Regions from separate parts of the Homo sapiens genome. Here region 1 is linked to region 2. Evidence: fine-mapped expression QTL. Tissue or cell type: whole blood. Region 2 holds a variant in brackets; the other region holds the start of a gene. All regions are shown on one strand. Distances are between the middles of the regions.

Region 1 (8,000 bases), 25 kb after region 2:
CAATTTTTAAGTATGTCTGTGGCTAAAAGTGTCTTTTTTTTTTTTGACACAGAGCCTCACTCTGTTGCTTAGGCTGGAGTGCAGTGGTACAAGCACGGTGCACTGCAGCCTCAGCCTCCTGAGCTCAAGCAATCCTCCTGCCTCGGCCTCCCAGGTAGTTGGGACTACAGGCATGCACCACCACATCTGGCTAATTTTTAAATTTTTTGTAGAGATGGGGGTGGGTCTCACTATGTTGCCAGGCCTGGTCCTGAACTCCTGGGCTCAAGGGATCCTCTCGCCTCAGCCTCCCAAAGTGCTTGGATTACAGGCATGAGCCACCACACCCAGCCCCAAAAGTGTCTTTTTTGTTTTTGATTTTTTTTTTTTTTTTTTTTTTTACTTTTTTTCCACACTTGGTAATCAGGAAGTAAAAGGTGTCTTTTTGACTGTCGACTTTTTGACTGCCATAGCCTTAGTCTAAATGAATAGACAACACTGACAAAATGGAAAGGGTCAAAGGGGAGGCCTATTTTGGCCAGAAAGAGTGAAGGGGAAGAAAAGACAGGGAAGAGGCCCAGGATGGACGGTGAGAAGTGAATTTCACCAACCTTGAAACCTCATATAGGGAGCCCCAATCTGCTTGTCTTCTAATCTAAGAGTAAAAAGGAAGAGATGTCAAGAAGGAAATAAAGGAGGAAGAAAAAGAATCACCTGTTGAGCACTTACTGGATGGCAGACACTGCATGGGATGCTTTCACATGTTGTTTTATTGAGATATGTCAATGCAAAAAGAAAGAGTTCTATGCATGGGAAAAAGACTTAAAGGAAATACATCAAAATCCTAACAGTAAGAGTGTCAGATTACAAGAGCCCCTTTTTCCATTCTCCATAATTTTTAACCATAAATATAACATGGTGTATTAACATTATAATACAAATTAAACTAAAATTTAAGGTGGATTTCTGGGTACAAATCCACCCACCCTGGAGTATAGAAAGTAAACTACTATAAATTAAGCCAAACTATACACTGAATATTTAAATAATAAAGGAAAATGTAGCCATTTCAAATGTATATAATATGTAACTATGCAATTATAAACCCAGAAAGAGAACATGAAAGAAACTACACAGGTGATATGGACCGCAGATTGATTAAATAAGAACAGAAATATGTGAAATTGTTAAGAATGTTATAAATCATTTTCTCTCCAAATTATAAACTACCAAGATGTTCTGTGTGTGTGTGGCCTACATAACTATAAAATAACAGTCCTCTCTTCTATAAAAACGTTTAGACTTTTACCTGTCTGTTACATACTTTTCCACATTCACTGCATTATTTTCTTTCTTTTAGGTGTGCACAACTCTCATATTTAAATAATCCCCCTTTTTTTTGTCTTTTAGGGTATTTCAAAGATAACAGGTATTTTTTTTAATAAATGAAGTATGTCATTATAGGCCGCTCAGATTCTAAGCAATCTGAATCCCCAATTAATGTCTTCCAAATATGCATATTTAGTTTTTATTCTGCTCAAAAATGAAACCCTAACCTAAATACTTCAAGTGAAATTTCAGGGGAAAAAGACTGTTCAAAAACCTAGATAATGCATTCCTTTGTTGATGCTAAATATAGTCATCTCAAGATGACATACATTTTGACAATGATCAGCCTTACATGTCAAATTTTCAAAAATAGCACAAATTCCATTTTAAGGTGAGCAGGAACAATTGCTATTCATTACATTTCAATTGAAAATGGATTTTAAAATATGAATCTTTTATTAAAACTGGATTACATTGTAACTATGATGAGGAAAACTGGATTTAAAATAATTTTGTTGTGGTTTTAGCTTAGAATTCTTTAAGGGAATTGCAGATAAACTACATAATTGCATGCATTTTTCTTTAAATTGTTCCTCAGAAGCATTAGTCAAAATATAAAATATCTGCAAAAATACGGTGTTAATTGTAAGGAAGAAGAAACTTAAACAGCTACATTGGTTAATCAAAGTTTACTTATACAAATTATACCTCCCCCCAAAAAACCTTTCTCTCATTTGATTAATTATGCATTTTTTCTTAACAATACCCCAAACTCAAAAGAATTTGAGACAAAGTTTTCTAACTGCAGCAGTTTAACCTGTAAAGGATAATGTTTAGCGGGGGAAATTATGTGGTCCACTCAATAACGTGTGACTAAGATATAAATAACGTGTGACTAAGATATGAACTTAAGTATAAATACTTAAGTTTATTTAATCACATTACCTAAGACATAGTTATGTTGTGACTCGAAGGCCAATGGGCCGCTGCTACATGAATTCATTAACAAAATTTAACGATGAATGATATTCCCGTTGTTTTGGTCAGGGAACTAATTTCTTTATTATGGCTTCTTTTCTCTACCTGTGTCTTCACCAAGGACATTTTGTTAGGACATATCCTTATGCTATTTTTACCTTGTTATCTCTCTGCCAACTTGGTTCACGTTGTGCTTTAATAACTATAAAATGAGCATCTCTAAGTCACTGCAGTAACCAACTATAACCTCTCAACTTCGTCATTTTCTTTATAAATGCCAATGCTAATGCATTTGTAGAACGTTTCACAATTTACAAACAGCTGGAATGGTTTGGCGTTTTCAAAAGCATATAGGCAAAGGGAGTTCTCAAGAGGTGACTACATTCTTCACTCACTTAAACTACGTAAACTTCGTAAACTTCCAGCCCTAGTTGCTCAACCCCCAGCATCCCACCTCGGGCAGAATCACGAAAAAAAAAAAAAAAAGGGTTGGAGACAGGAGTGGGGGGATATGCGGGGGTGTGGGGGGGGAGTAATAGGCTGTTAAATCATATTTCTCCCCATCTTCCACAGAGACCGATCAGAAAGGATTTCTTAACTGGCACTGCTGGCAGAGACGGAGACCGCGGCTGGGGCAAGTGGTGGGGGACGGCACTGAACTTCCCTAAGGACCCCAAGGGTTCAGCCGAGGGATCGGCACCCACTCCGCTCACAGAGGGCTCCCTCCCTACAGTAGGGAACGCACCCGAAACTCAGCCGACAAGGCGCAGGGGAGCAGGGCAAAGACATTGCAACCAGAAGCCCAAGGCCGGCCGACACTTTCAGACCCTGGGGCAGCCCCTGGTAGGCACCCCGCCGAGCCCGCAGGATGCGGCTCCAAGGCAGGGTTCGCCCGGGCCGGGGCCAGCGCGGACCACAGCTGTATGGCGCCCGGCGCCCTCCGGAGCTGCAGCGGAGCACGGCCAGAAGCCGCAGACCCCGAGCGCCTCTCTGCAGCCGCCGTTCCCGCCCCCGCCCCCACCAGGGGACCCGACACCTCCGTCTCCACTCCCCCCAGCCCACGTTCCCCCAACTCTTCTCACCCTGCAGGAGCCGGTGACCGGCGAAGGTACTTCTTTCCGCGTGGAGGGACTGTGCGCGTCCCGCCTGGCTGTGGGTAGGGGTCTGGGAGCTCTGGCCGCTAACACTTCTGCTCCAGCCGCTGGGAGTCCTCTGGCTGCCGCTGCCGCCGCCGCCGCCGCCGTCTCCAGCAGCAAGTTTCCATAAAAGTCCTGGTGTGCAGCCTGTTCCCGCATTCCAGGCGGGCCCAGCGCCGGCTGCAGCTGTTCCAAAACACAAGGCCAGTTCCCCCAACCCCCCACCTCCGCCGTTATCACCCGGAGTGGGGGTGGAGAGTTGAGGAGAAAAGCAGGGGAGGGGGACCGTGGCTGCCAACTTTCCGCCAGAATTTGTCTGTCTCCCGGCCCTAGGTGCGCGAGCTGACCCCCTAACTTTGGGCCTGCCTCCACCTCCAGCCAGGCCTGGGGAAGGAAGGCTGCCTCCGCCATGGGAAAGGAATGAGGCTGAAATGGGCTTCATTACCGGGCTGAAGCTGGCTCCCCCTACCCGCAACCAGTTTGCTCTGGGGCCCACTTCTCTCAGCTACTCTACCCGTCCTAGTTTCCAGTCAAGAAGCCAAGCCACTACATATCTTCTACTACCCTAAGCATTGACCTTTGGCCAAGTTTTCCTTTATTACAAAGAGCGTGGGGCAGCAATCCGGGAACACTTCATCTGTCTATTGCTCCCCTGTTCTTAGCTCCAGTCTTTAACTCTAAAAGGAGAGTTAAAAAAGAAGAAGAAGAAGAAGAAGAAGAAGAAGAAGAAGAAGAAGAAGAAGAAGAAGAAGAAGAAGAAGAAGAAGAAGAAGAAGAAGAAGAAGAAGAAGAAAGTTGAAGGCAGAGGAGGAGGAGGAGAAGAAAAGAAGGAATATATTTATATAAGTACAAATATCTTTATATTCCACCTTTTTCTTAATTGAAGGCAAACCATATCTGGTCTTTCTAAAGCTTCATAAAGGCATCTTTGACTATTAGACACCCACAGACCTTTTTCAACTTGGACCGCCAGCCTGTCAAACCCATCAGACAATACCATATTAAAACCCGAAATGCACACTCGGAGTATTTTTGGTGGACGAGATCTTTAATTCTTCACTGCACTTGAAAAAAAAATCGAAATGACATCCAGATAAAGAATAAAGGTAACCACTTCCACCTTCAGGCCCTAAGCAGACAGCGGTGCTCAGGTTATATTTCAGGGATGTTGAAAAGGCCTTCTGGGCTGGGCGCGGTGGCTCATGCCTGTGATCCCCGCACTTTGGGAGGCCGAGGCGGGTGGATCACTTGAGGTCAGGAATTCAAGACCAGCCTGACCAACATGGCAAAAGGCCGTCTTTACTAAAAATACAAAAAATTAGCCTAGTGTGGAGGCACACACCTGTAATCTGAGTTACTCAGGAGGCTGAGGCAGGAGAATCACTTGAAGCCAGGAGGCGGAGGTTGCAGTGAGCAGAGATCATCCCACTGCACTCCAGTCTGGGTGACAAAATGAGACTCTGTCTCCAAAAAAAAAAAAAAAGGCCGGGCGCGGTGGCTCCTGCCTGTAATCCCAGCACTTTGGGAGGCCAAGGCGGGTGGATCACCTGAGGTCAGGAGTTTGCGACCAGCCTGGCCAACATGGTGAAACTCTATCTCTACTAAAAATGCAAAAAATTAGCCGGGCGTGGTGACGTGCGCCTGTGATCCCAGCTACCTGGGAGGCTGAGGTTGAAGAACCCACTTCGCTTGAACCCGGGAGGCTGAGGTTGCTGTGAGCTGAGATGGCGCCATTGCACTCCAGCGTGAGCAACAAGAGTGAAACTCCCTCTCTCTCTCTGTTTCTCTCTCTCTCACACCCGTACACACAAAAGGCCTTCTACTCAAATATAACTCTGTTCCCCAGTCCCATCCCCACAGTATTTACTCAGGATGGAAACTTTTCTAAGGAGGGTAAGCCATTCATTCCTCGATTACAGAAAAGTTCAAAATTGGTAATTAAAATTATTTAAATGTACCGAACTACGGATAGTGATAGGTGGTCTTGGTAGTCTTGCTTGTGCCCTTGCTCTCTTTGATGCCATCACCTTGGCCTTCTTCAGTTCATGAAACTTTCTATGGGCAGTCTGGCTGCAGGGCCTTTGTATAAGTTGTTCCCTGCATGAAATCCTTTCTCCCACTTTCCCCTTCACCTAACTTCAACATATCCTCCCGATCTCTTCTTAAATGCTGCTTCCTCGGAGAAGGCTTCCTTGCATCCCACCTTTCTCCCCACCTTGCACCTCACCTTTCATCCCACCTTTCTCTTCCCTATATATATATATTCCTATTTATTTGCTTATTTATTTATTTATTTATTTATTTATTTATTTATTTATTTGGAGATGTAGTCTCGCTCCGTCGCCCAGGCTGGAGTGCAGTGGCACGATCTCAGCTCACTGCAACCTCCGCTTCCCCAGTTCAATCGATTCTCCTGACTCAAAAGTAGCTGGGATTACAGGCGCGTGCCACCACACCTGGCTACTTTTTGTATTTTTAGTGGAGATGGGGTTTCACCATGTTGGCCAGGCTGGTCTTGAACTCCTGCCCTCAAGTGATCCACCCACCTCGGCCTCGCAAAGTGCTGGGATTACAGGTGTGAGCCACTGTGCCCTGCCCCTATACATATCAATTTATAATTACATATTTATTTCTGTGATTTAAAGAAGTGAGTTGGCTGAGCATGGTGTCTCACGCCTGTAATCCCAGCACTTTGGGAGGCTGAAGCGGGTGGATCACTTGAGGTCAGGAGTTCGAGACCAGCCTGGCCAACATGGCGAAATCCTGTCTCTACTAAAAATATAAAAATTAGCTGAGTGTGGTAGCGTGCACCTGTAGTCCCAGCTACTCGGGAGGCTGAGGCAGGAGAATTGCTTGAAACCAGGAGGTGGAGGTTGCAGTGAGCCGAGATCATGCCACTGCACTCCAGTCTGGGCGACAGAGTGAGACTCTGTCTCAAAAAATAATAAATAAATAAATAACTAGAAACTTAACAATTTTTTATTTTTATATCCACCCAATAGATTCACCAGATTAAACAAAGCTCTCCATTCTCTCTGTAGAACACTGATAGCTACTCACAGCATGCAAGGCCTGCTTATTTTCCCACCAATTCATCATTCATTCATTCAACAGATATTCAGTTCTATATGCTAAGGATACAGCAGTGATAAAGGAAAAATCCCTGCCATTATGGAACATACATTCTAGTGAAAGAAGGCAGACAATAAGCAAATAAGTGAACTATGTAGTATTTAGTGACATGTAATATGGCAATATGGATAATACCAGAGCAGGGAAGTAGAGAATGCTGGAGGCAGGCTGAGTAGATGTTGTAATTTTAGATAGAGTGGCTAAGGAAAGCCTCATATGAGTAAAAGCCTTGAGGAGAGTGAGGCAGTAGGCTATGTAAATATCTGGAGAAGCAAATATTTGGAGGAAGAGTGGTCCAGGGATAGATACAAAGGCCCAGAGAAGGATTCTATCTGACATGTTCTAGGAAGAACCAGGAGGCTTGTGCGAGTGAAGCTGAGTAGGTGAAGGGTGAGGTAATAGGAGGTGCAGTGGGGAGCAGGAGACAAGACTACGTAGGATTTTGTTTGTTTGAGAATAAGTCTCGCTCTGTCGCCCAGGCTGGAGTGCAGTAGCATAAACTCTGCTCACTGCAACCTCCGCCTCCTGGGTTCAAGCGATTCTCTTCCCTCAGACTCCCGAGTAGCTGGGATTACAGGCACCTGTCACCATGCCCGGCTAATTTCTGTATTTTTAGTAGAGATGGGGTTTCACCATATTGGCCAGGCTGGTCTCAAACTCCTGACCTCAGGTGATCCGTCTACCTCGGCCTCCTAAAGTGTTGGGATTACAGGCGTAAACCAACATGCCTGGCCTTTTTTTTTTTTTTTAGAGACCCAGGCTGGAGTGCAGTGGTGGAATCACAGCTCACCGCAGCCTCTAACTTCTGGGCTCAAGCGATCCTCCTGCCACAGCTTCTCTGAGTAGCTGGGACTACAGGCATGCAACAACACACCTGGCTAATTTTTTAGTTTTTGTAGAAATGGGGTCTTATTATGTTGCCTGGGTTGGTCTCAAACTCCTGGGCTTAAGCATCCTCCCACTTCGGCCTCCCAGAGAGTAGGGATAATAGGCATGAGCCATTGTGCCCAGCCTCTTTTTGTACAGCATTGTAAAGATTTTGGTTTTTACTCTAACATGGGTGGTCTCTGGTAGGTTTTGAACAACATAGTGACATGATCTGACATGTTTACTCTCTCTAGCTTAAGTGCTGCACATACACCAAATGAGGCAAGAGAAGAAGCAGGGAGATCAATTAATTAGGAGGCTTCCACAATAATCGGAATGAGGAATGGGGATTTGGGCCAAAGTGATAGTTGTGAAGGTAGTGAGAAATACCTGGCATATTTTTTTTTCCTTGTTGCCTTTTTAGGTAGAAATGGTAGGATTTTTTTTTTTTTTTTTTTTGTAACTGAATGTGAGGTGTGAGGAAAGGAGGTTTTGGGCCTTTGATCTGGAAGAATGGAGTTGTAATTTACTCAGATAGGGAAGGTTGTGGGAAGAGGAGGTTTAGGCAGGGGTGGTAAG
Region 2 (8,309 bases):
GTTACTATTACTTCCCATCTATAACTTCTTTAAGCCACATTAAAAATGTGTAAGAAGGCTATATCATTCTATATGGGGGCGGGCTGTAAGAGGAATTCCATATGGCAACAGCTTCACAAAGAATGGGAATCTGGTAGAAGACTGAAGAAATGATTTTCCTCCACTCTAAAACCAGAAGAGCAAATTATTTTCACCACTTTGAAAATTAAGCTGATTTCTAAATGAAATTTCAGTAAATAAAATGTGTGCCTCAGAACACCAAATCCTTTTTCCTAGTGATAATGACAATTACTTAATTAATTTGTGGCACATCCAACTTGTATTTTATAATCTATTATGTGTCATTGGCCATTTAAGGGTTAACTTTATAATTCTGAGGTGTCAGCAACTGAGCTCTTCTTACAACTCTCAGTATCTACAGTCAAGAACCAGAAGAAAGCTAAAAATTAAAATATATATATAAGGCACTAAAAAGGTTCCTTACCTAAGAGGGAATTATGTTTTCTCCTATGAGTATAGGTCAAACTTTGTTTTAATACTAAAATAATAATTTCTAAGAGTTATCAAGAACAAAATATTTAAAATTCTACTCAGAATGCTAGCTATCACATCCACTTCACTATCATTCACAAATTTACTACTCATGCTTTGTAGAATTTCCTAGAACCCAAATGAAAATACTAGCCCAAGACCAGCTGGTGAATTGTATCTCTTCTTGTTTTACATCTTGCCATTATGTTATTAATTATGAACTCCTAAATATGACCTTTCCACCAAATGACTGTCCTTTCAGCAATTCTACAGTCAACTCTACATTTCCCTCTTTTATTTTTATTTTTACTTTTGAGACTTACCTCAGCCTTTTGGGAAATATCATTCATGTTTGCTCTATGTGGTCTTGGGCTGATTATGAAGCTCTGTATATATTTGCACCTGAAAAAAATTTATATTGTATAATAAATTTTAATTTATTTGTAATATATTATGTATTTTTATAAATAGAAATAGCAGTTAATTGCCCCTCAAAAAATACTGACATGATTCAAGCAAGTAATAAATTGTGATAACCTTTAGCTCTTTTTCCCAAGATTCATGGTATAGAAAACATAAGGTGCATGATGGTAAAAGATCCCTGAAAGTTTTTGATCCAGAATAGCTTGATGAACATACTAAGTTCACTTGAAAAGAATGTGTATTCAGCAATTACTGAGTGTATTACTCTATAAATATTAACTAGCTGAAGGTAGTTGATCATGTTTTAGATCTGTATTTTTACTAATTTTTGGCTATTTCTATCAATCTTCAACTATGTAGTTTTTTGTTTGCTTGTTTTGTTTTGTTTTGTTTTTGTTTTTGTTTTGAGATGAAATCTCACTCTGTCGCCCAGGCTGGAGTGCAGTGGCGCCATCTCGCTCACTGCAAGCTCTGCCTCCCGGGTTCACACCATTCTCCCACTTCAGCCTCCCGAGTAGCTGGGACTACAGGCGTGTGCCGCCACGTCCGGCTAATTTTTTGTATTTTTAGTAGAGACGGGGTTTCACCGTGTTAGCCAGGATGGTCTCAATCTCCTGACCTCGTGATCCGCCTGCCTCGGCCTCCCAAAGTGCTGGGATTACAGGCATGAGCCACCATGCCCGGCCACCAGCTTTCTTTTTATTTATACATTTATTTTTTAGAGACAGCATCTCGCTGTGTCACCCAGGCTGAAGTACAGTGGCACAATGACAGTTCACTGTACCCTTGAACTCCTGGGCTCAAGCGATCCTCCTTCCTCAGCCTCCCAAGTAGCTGGGACTACAGGCATGCAGCACTATGCCCAGCTCTTTTTTTTTTCTCTATAGAAATGGGGTCTCACTGTGTTGTTTAGACTGGTTTTGAAACCCTGGGCTCAAGCAACTCTCCCACCTTGGCCTCCAGAAGTGCTAGGATTGCATCCGTGAGCCACTGCATCTGGCCCCCAACTTTCTTAGGTTTACAGTTTGCATGGTATATAATTTTCTAGCTATTTACTTTCACTCTATCTATGTTTTTATATGTAAAGCATATGTCTTGGACACAGCATATGTTTGGACCTTGCTTTTTACAAAAATCAATTCTGATAAAATCTGGGTTTTCTTTTTTTTTTTTTTTGAGACGTAGTTTCGCTCTTGTTGCCCAGGCTGGAGTGCAGTGGCATGATCTCGGCTCACTGCAACCTCCGCCTTCCAGTTTCAAGCGATTCTCCTGCCTCAGCCTCCTGAGTAGCTGGGATTACAGGCTCCCACCACCACACCCAGCTAATTTTTGTATTTTTAGTAGAGATGGGGTTTCACCATGTTGGCTAGGCTGGTCTCGAACTCCTGACCTTGTGATCCACCCACCTAGGCCTCCCAAAGTGCTGGGATTACAGGCGTGAGCCACCGTGCCAGGCCTAAAATCTGTTTTTTTAATTGCAGCATTTAGTTCATTAACATTTAATGTAATTATTAATATCAATGAGTTTAGGCCTATCATTTAAATATTTATTTTAGGTTTGTTTTATCTTGTTTTGTTTTTTTCTTTTGGAATTTTCTAGCCAACTTTTTTTTTAATAGAGTTTATTTTAGGTTCACAGCAAAATTGAGTAGAAGATAGAGATTTCCTGTATATGTTCTGTCCCTGCACATGCTTAGTCACCCCCATTATCAACACTGGATAACCCCATTATTACCACCTATTGGAGTGGTACATTTGTTATAAATGATGAACCTATACTGACACATCATTATCACCCAGAGTCCATAGTTTACATTAGGGTTTACTCCTGAGTTGTACATTCTGTGGGTTTTGGGTAAATGTACAATGACATGTGTCCATCATTACAGTATTGCACAGAGCAGTTTCACTGACCTAAAAGTCCTCTTTACTCCACTTACTTATGCTTTTCTCCCCCATAATTCCTGGTAACCATGATCTTTTTACTGTCTTCATAGTTTTGACTTTTCCAGAATGTCATACAGTTGGAACCACACAGTATGTAGCCTTTTCATATTGACTTTTTTCACATAGTTATGTGCATTTCAGTTTCCTCTATGTTTTTCATGGCTTGATAGCTCATTTCTTTTTAGCACTGAATAATATTCTATTACCTGCATGTACCACAGTTTATCCATTCACCTACCAAATGACATCTTGGTTGTTTCCAAGTTTTGGTGTTTATGAATAAAGTTGACATAAATATCTGTATGCAGGTTCTTGTGGACCATGATTACTGGATTATATGGTAAGAGCATATTTAGTATTATAAGAAACCACCATGTAGCTTACCACTTTGCATTCCCACCAGCAATGAATGAGAGTTCATATTGCTCCATATCCTCACCTGCATTTGATGTTGTCAGTGTTCTGAATTTTGGCCATTCTAATAGATGTGGAGTGGTATTTCATTGTCATTTTTATTTGCATTTCCTTGAATATATATTAAATGAATAAATATTAAATTAGAATTATATTAAATAATATATTAAAGCACCTTTTCATATGTTTATTTGCCATCTGTATCTTCTTCAGTGAGATGTCTCCTAAGATCTTTGTTTGGTCCATTTTTTTTTTTTTGAGATGGAGTCTTGCACTGTCACCCAGGCTAGAGAGCAGTGGCATGATCTCGGCTCACTGCAACCTCCGCCTCCCGGGTTCAAGCAATTCTCCTGTCTCAGCCTCCCGAGCAGCTGGGACTACAGGCACCTGCCACCACACCCGGCTAATTTTTGTATTTGTAGTAGAGATGGGGTTTCGCTATATTGGTCAGGCTGGTCTCAAACTCCTGACCTCAGGTGATCCGCCCACCTCGGCCTCCCAAAGTGCTGGGATTGCAGGCGTGAGCCACTGTCCCCAGCCCTTTGGTCCATTTTTTAATTGGGTTGTTTGTATTCTTATTACAGAGTTGTAAGAGTTCTTTGTGTATTTTGGATAACAGTCCTTTATCTGATATGTCACTTGCAAATATTTTCTCCAAGTCTATGGCTTATTTTTTAATTCTTTTCACAGTGTCTTTTGCAGAACAGAATTTTTTAATTTTAATGAAGTCCAGCTTATCAATTCTTTCTTTCATGAATTGTGACTTTGGTATCATAGCTAAAAAGTGAACTCCAAATCTGAGGTCATCTAGATTTCTGTCTATGTTTTCTTCTAGGAGTTTTATAGTTCTATGCTGTAAGTCTGTGATTCATTTTGAGTTAATTTTTGTGAAGAATGTAAGGTCTATTTCTAGATTCAGTTTTTTGCAAGTGGATGTCCAGTTGTTCCAGCACCATTTGTTGAAAATAATCTTTTCTCTATTTTATTGCCTTTGCTCCTTTGTCAAAGATCAGTTGATTATATTTACGTGGATCTATTTCTGGGCTCTCTATTCGGTTTCATTGATCTTTTTGTTTATTATTTCACCAACACTGCACTGTATCAATTACTGTAGGTTTATAGTATGTCTTAAAGTTGAGTAGTGTTAGTCCTCCAGCTTTGTTCTTCTCCTTCAACACTGTGTTGGCTATTCCAAGTCTTTTCCCTTTTCATATAAACTTTAGAATCAGTTTGTCAATATCCACAAAATAATATGCTGGGATTTTGATTGGGATTGCATTGAATCTGTAGATGGATCTAGGGAGAATTAATATCTTAATAATGTTAAGTCTTCTGATCCATGAACACAGTATGTCCCCCCCATTATATACATATTCTATAATTTCTCAGAAATGTTTTGTAGTTTTCAATGTGCAGATCTTCCACATCTTTTGTCAGTTATCCCTAAATAATTTCATAGTTGTTTATACTACTGTAAATGGTGTTGTTTTTTAGATTTAAATTAATGATTGTTGCTAGTACATGTTGAGTATCCCTTATCTGAAATGCTTGGGACTAGAAATGTTTCAGATTTCAGATTTTTTTTTTTTTTTTTGAGACAGAGTCTCACTCTGTCGCCCAGACTGGAGTGCAATGGTGCAATCTCGGCTCACTGCAACCTCTGCCTCCCGGGTTCAAGCAATTCTCCTGCCTCAGCCTCCTGAGTAGCTGGGACTACAGGTGCGTGCCACCACATCCAGCTAATTTTTGTATTTTTAGTAGAGACGGGGTTTCACCATGTTGGTCAGGCTGGTCTCAACTCCTGCCTTGTGATCCGCCTGCCTCAGCCTCCCAAAGTGCTGGGATTACAAGCATGAGCCACCGTGCCTGGCCTCAGATTTCAGATCTTTTTTGGATTTTGGAATATATGTGTATATATATATATATATA[TATAA/A]AACAGGCTATCTTGGGGATAGGACCCAAGTCTAAACATGAAATTCATTTATGTTCCATATACACCTTATACATATAGCCTGAAGGTAGTTTTATAGAATATTTTAAATAACTTTTGCATGAAGCAAAGTTGTTTTGTTTTGTTTTTGAGATGGAGTCTTGCTCTTGTCGCCCAGGCTGGAGTGCAATGGTGCAATCTCGGCTCACTGCAACCTCCACCTCCTGGGTTCAAGCGATTCTCCTGCCTCAGCCTCCCAAGTAGCTGGGATTACAGGTGTCCGCCACTATGCCTGGCTAATTTTTGTATTTTTAGTAGAGACAGGGTTTCACCATGTTGGCCAGGCTGGTCTCGAACTCCTGACCTCAGGTAATCCACCTGTCTTGGCCTCTGAAAGTGTTGGGATTACAGGCGTGAGCCATTTTGCCCGGCCAAAGCAAAGTTTTGACTATGTTTTGACTGATCTGTCACATGAGGCCAAGTGTGGAATTTTCCACTTGTGACGTCATGTCAGTACTCCAAAGGTTTCAGATTTTGGAGCATTTGGATTTTAGATTTTCAGATTAGGGATATTCAACCTGCATACAGAAGTATAATTTTGGGGCCAGGCGCTGTATCTCATTCCTTTAATCCAAACCAACACTTTGGAAGGCTGAGGCAGGGGGGTTGCTTGAGGCCAGGAGTTCAAGAACAACCTGGGCAACATAGTAGACCCCATCTCTACAAAAAATTTAAAAATTAGCCAGGCCTGGTGGTGTGTGTCTGTAGTTTTGGCCACTTGGGAAACAGAGGCAGGAGGATCTCTTGAGCCCAGGAACTCAAAGTTACTGTAAGCTATGATCATATCACCATACTCCAGCCTGGGTGACAGAGTGAGTCCCTATTTCTAAAAGAAAAAAAATTAAAATTAAAAAATACAGTTTTTGTATTCTGGTTTTATATCTTGCAACCCTGCTAAAATAACTTATTAGTTTTTTTTTTTTTTTTTTTTTTTGAGACAGTCTCACTCTGTCACCCAGGCTGGAGTGCAATGGCACAGTCTCAGCTCACTGCAACCTCCACCTCTCGGGTTCAAGTGATTCTACTGCCTCAGCCTCCCGAGTAGCTGGGACTACAGGCGCGACCGACGACACCCAGCTAATTTTTGTATTTTTAGTAGAGACAGGGTTTCACTATGTTGGCCAGGCTGATCTCGAAGTCCTGACCTCGTGATCCGCCTGCCTTGGCCTCCCAAAATGCTGGGATTACAGGCGTTAGCCACCGAGCCCAGCCTAATAACTTATTAGTTCTATTGGCTTTTTCATAGATTCCATCAGATTTTCTACATACATAGATGATCACATCATCGGTGAGCACAGTTCTACTTTTTCCTTTCCAGTCTGGATGCCTTTCATTTCTTTTTCTGGCTTTACTGTACTAGCTAGAACCTCCAGTACAATGTTAGATAGAAGTGGTAAGAGCAGATATCTTTGTCTTGTTCCTGATCTTAGGAGAAATATGTCCAGTCTTTCACTGTTAAGTAAGATGTTAGCTGTAGGCTTTTCTTAGATGCCGTTTATCAGACTAAGTTTACTGGAGTAATTATCAGTAACAGATGTTGGATTTTATCTAATGCTTTTTCTGTGTCTATTGAGATAATCATATGGCTTTCATTTTTAATTTATTAATATTGTGAGTTACATTAACTGATTTTCAAGTGTTAAATCAACCTTAACATTCCTAGGATAATTCCCAATTGGTTATAATGCATTATCCTCTTAATATATTGCTGGAATCAATTTGATAAAATTTTGTTAAGTTTTGTATCTGTATTTATGATAAATTATTGGTTGTGTAAGTTATCTTTTCTTGTGATGTCCGCTTTTATTAACAGAGTAATATTGTCTTTATAGAATGAGTTGGGAATTATTTCTTTAGTTTTCTGGAAGAGTTCATGTAGGATTTAGTATTATTTTTTCCCTAAATATTTGCAAGAACTCCCCAGTGAAGCCATGTGGGACTGAAGTTTTCTTTATGGGAAGGAGACAATATAATGGGGGAGAGGATGGGACATGATTCCCTGTAATTATTAATAAGATCCTAACTTTTCTTGTTTAGTGGGTCTGTCGGTGCTTATGACATTATTAAAAATAAAGGAGTAAATTAAAGGAATCCATCTATACATGAGTGTGTCATGAACTAAGGTTTATGAGTAACCTAATTTTATGTGCCTGAGATAAAAATAATAAATAGCACTAGTCCTGTTGTCTTACTTGAGCCATTATATCATATCTAAAGTTACCTGTTAGATATTTTATTAATTTATTTATTTATTTATTTATTGAGATGAAGTTTTGCCCTTGTTGCCCAGGCTGGAGTGCAATGGTGTGATCTTGGCTCATTGCAACTTCTGTCTCCCGGGTTCAAGCGATTCTTCTGCCTCAGCCTCCCAAGTAGCTGGGATTACAGGCATGCCCCACTACGCCCAGCTAATTTTGTATTTTTAGTAGAGACAGGGTTTCACCATGTTGATTAGGCTGGTCTTGAACTCCTGACTTCAAGTGATCCACCCGCCTTCGCCTCCCAAAGTTTTGGGATTACAGGCATGAGCCACCATGCCTGGCCTGATATTTCTTCTTATATAACCAACAAAACCTACCCTTCATTCTCATGGCTTCTCAAACCTTGCAGTTATTTTTGATTCATTCTTCTATATCTCCTAGATTTTAATAGATTGTCAAGATTTATGAATGTTGCTTTCAAACTTCTCTTACATATTACTTCATATTTCCACGGCCTCCATACTAATACAGACCTTCAATCACCTCACATTTAGATTACCAAAATTTGGTAATCAGACCTAAATCCAAATTTCAAATCTGTTAACTGCTTAGTTAGGATTAGCTGAGAGCATTATATGAAGAACCCTGGAATAATAACTAACATTAGTAGATATCAATAACTTTGATTAATTTTATTACTATTCATCTCCCCTACTAGAATTTACTCTATTTAGGAAAAAACCTATCTTTCCCTGCCAGTGAGCATATATAATGTATTACTTACACAATTGTGGTGGCTCATG

What was found. PIP is the estimated chance that this variant, and not a neighbour inherited with it, causes the effect.
Region 1: it holds the start of NEXN, and the variant in region 2 is fine-mapped to the expression of NEXN in whole blood (INTERVAL, PIP above 0.99).

The regions. Positions count from the first base shown.
Region 1 is chr1:77,884,128-77,892,127 of GRCh38, reverse strand. NEXN (nexilin F-actin binding protein) reads right to left here and starts at 3,504. Exons shown (of 13, transcript NM_144573.4): 1 at 3,369-3,504. NEXN-AS1 (NEXN antisense RNA 1) reads left to right here and starts at 2,589. Exons shown (of 3, transcript NR_103535.1): 1 at 2,589-2,660; 2 at 2,860-4,528. RefSeq lists a silencer at 3,120-3,259 and an enhancer at 3,500-3,559.
Region 2 is chr1:77,908,679-77,916,987 of GRCh38, reverse strand. NEXN (nexilin F-actin binding protein) reads right to left here. Exons shown (of 13, transcript NM_144573.4): 2 at 855-933. The coding sequence starts at 881. Among named protein-coding and RNA genes, the nearest start is that of NEXN-AS1, 23 kb to the right of the region's middle. RefSeq lists a silencer at 7,542-7,695. The variant TATAA/A (reference allele first, on the strand shown) is at 5,245.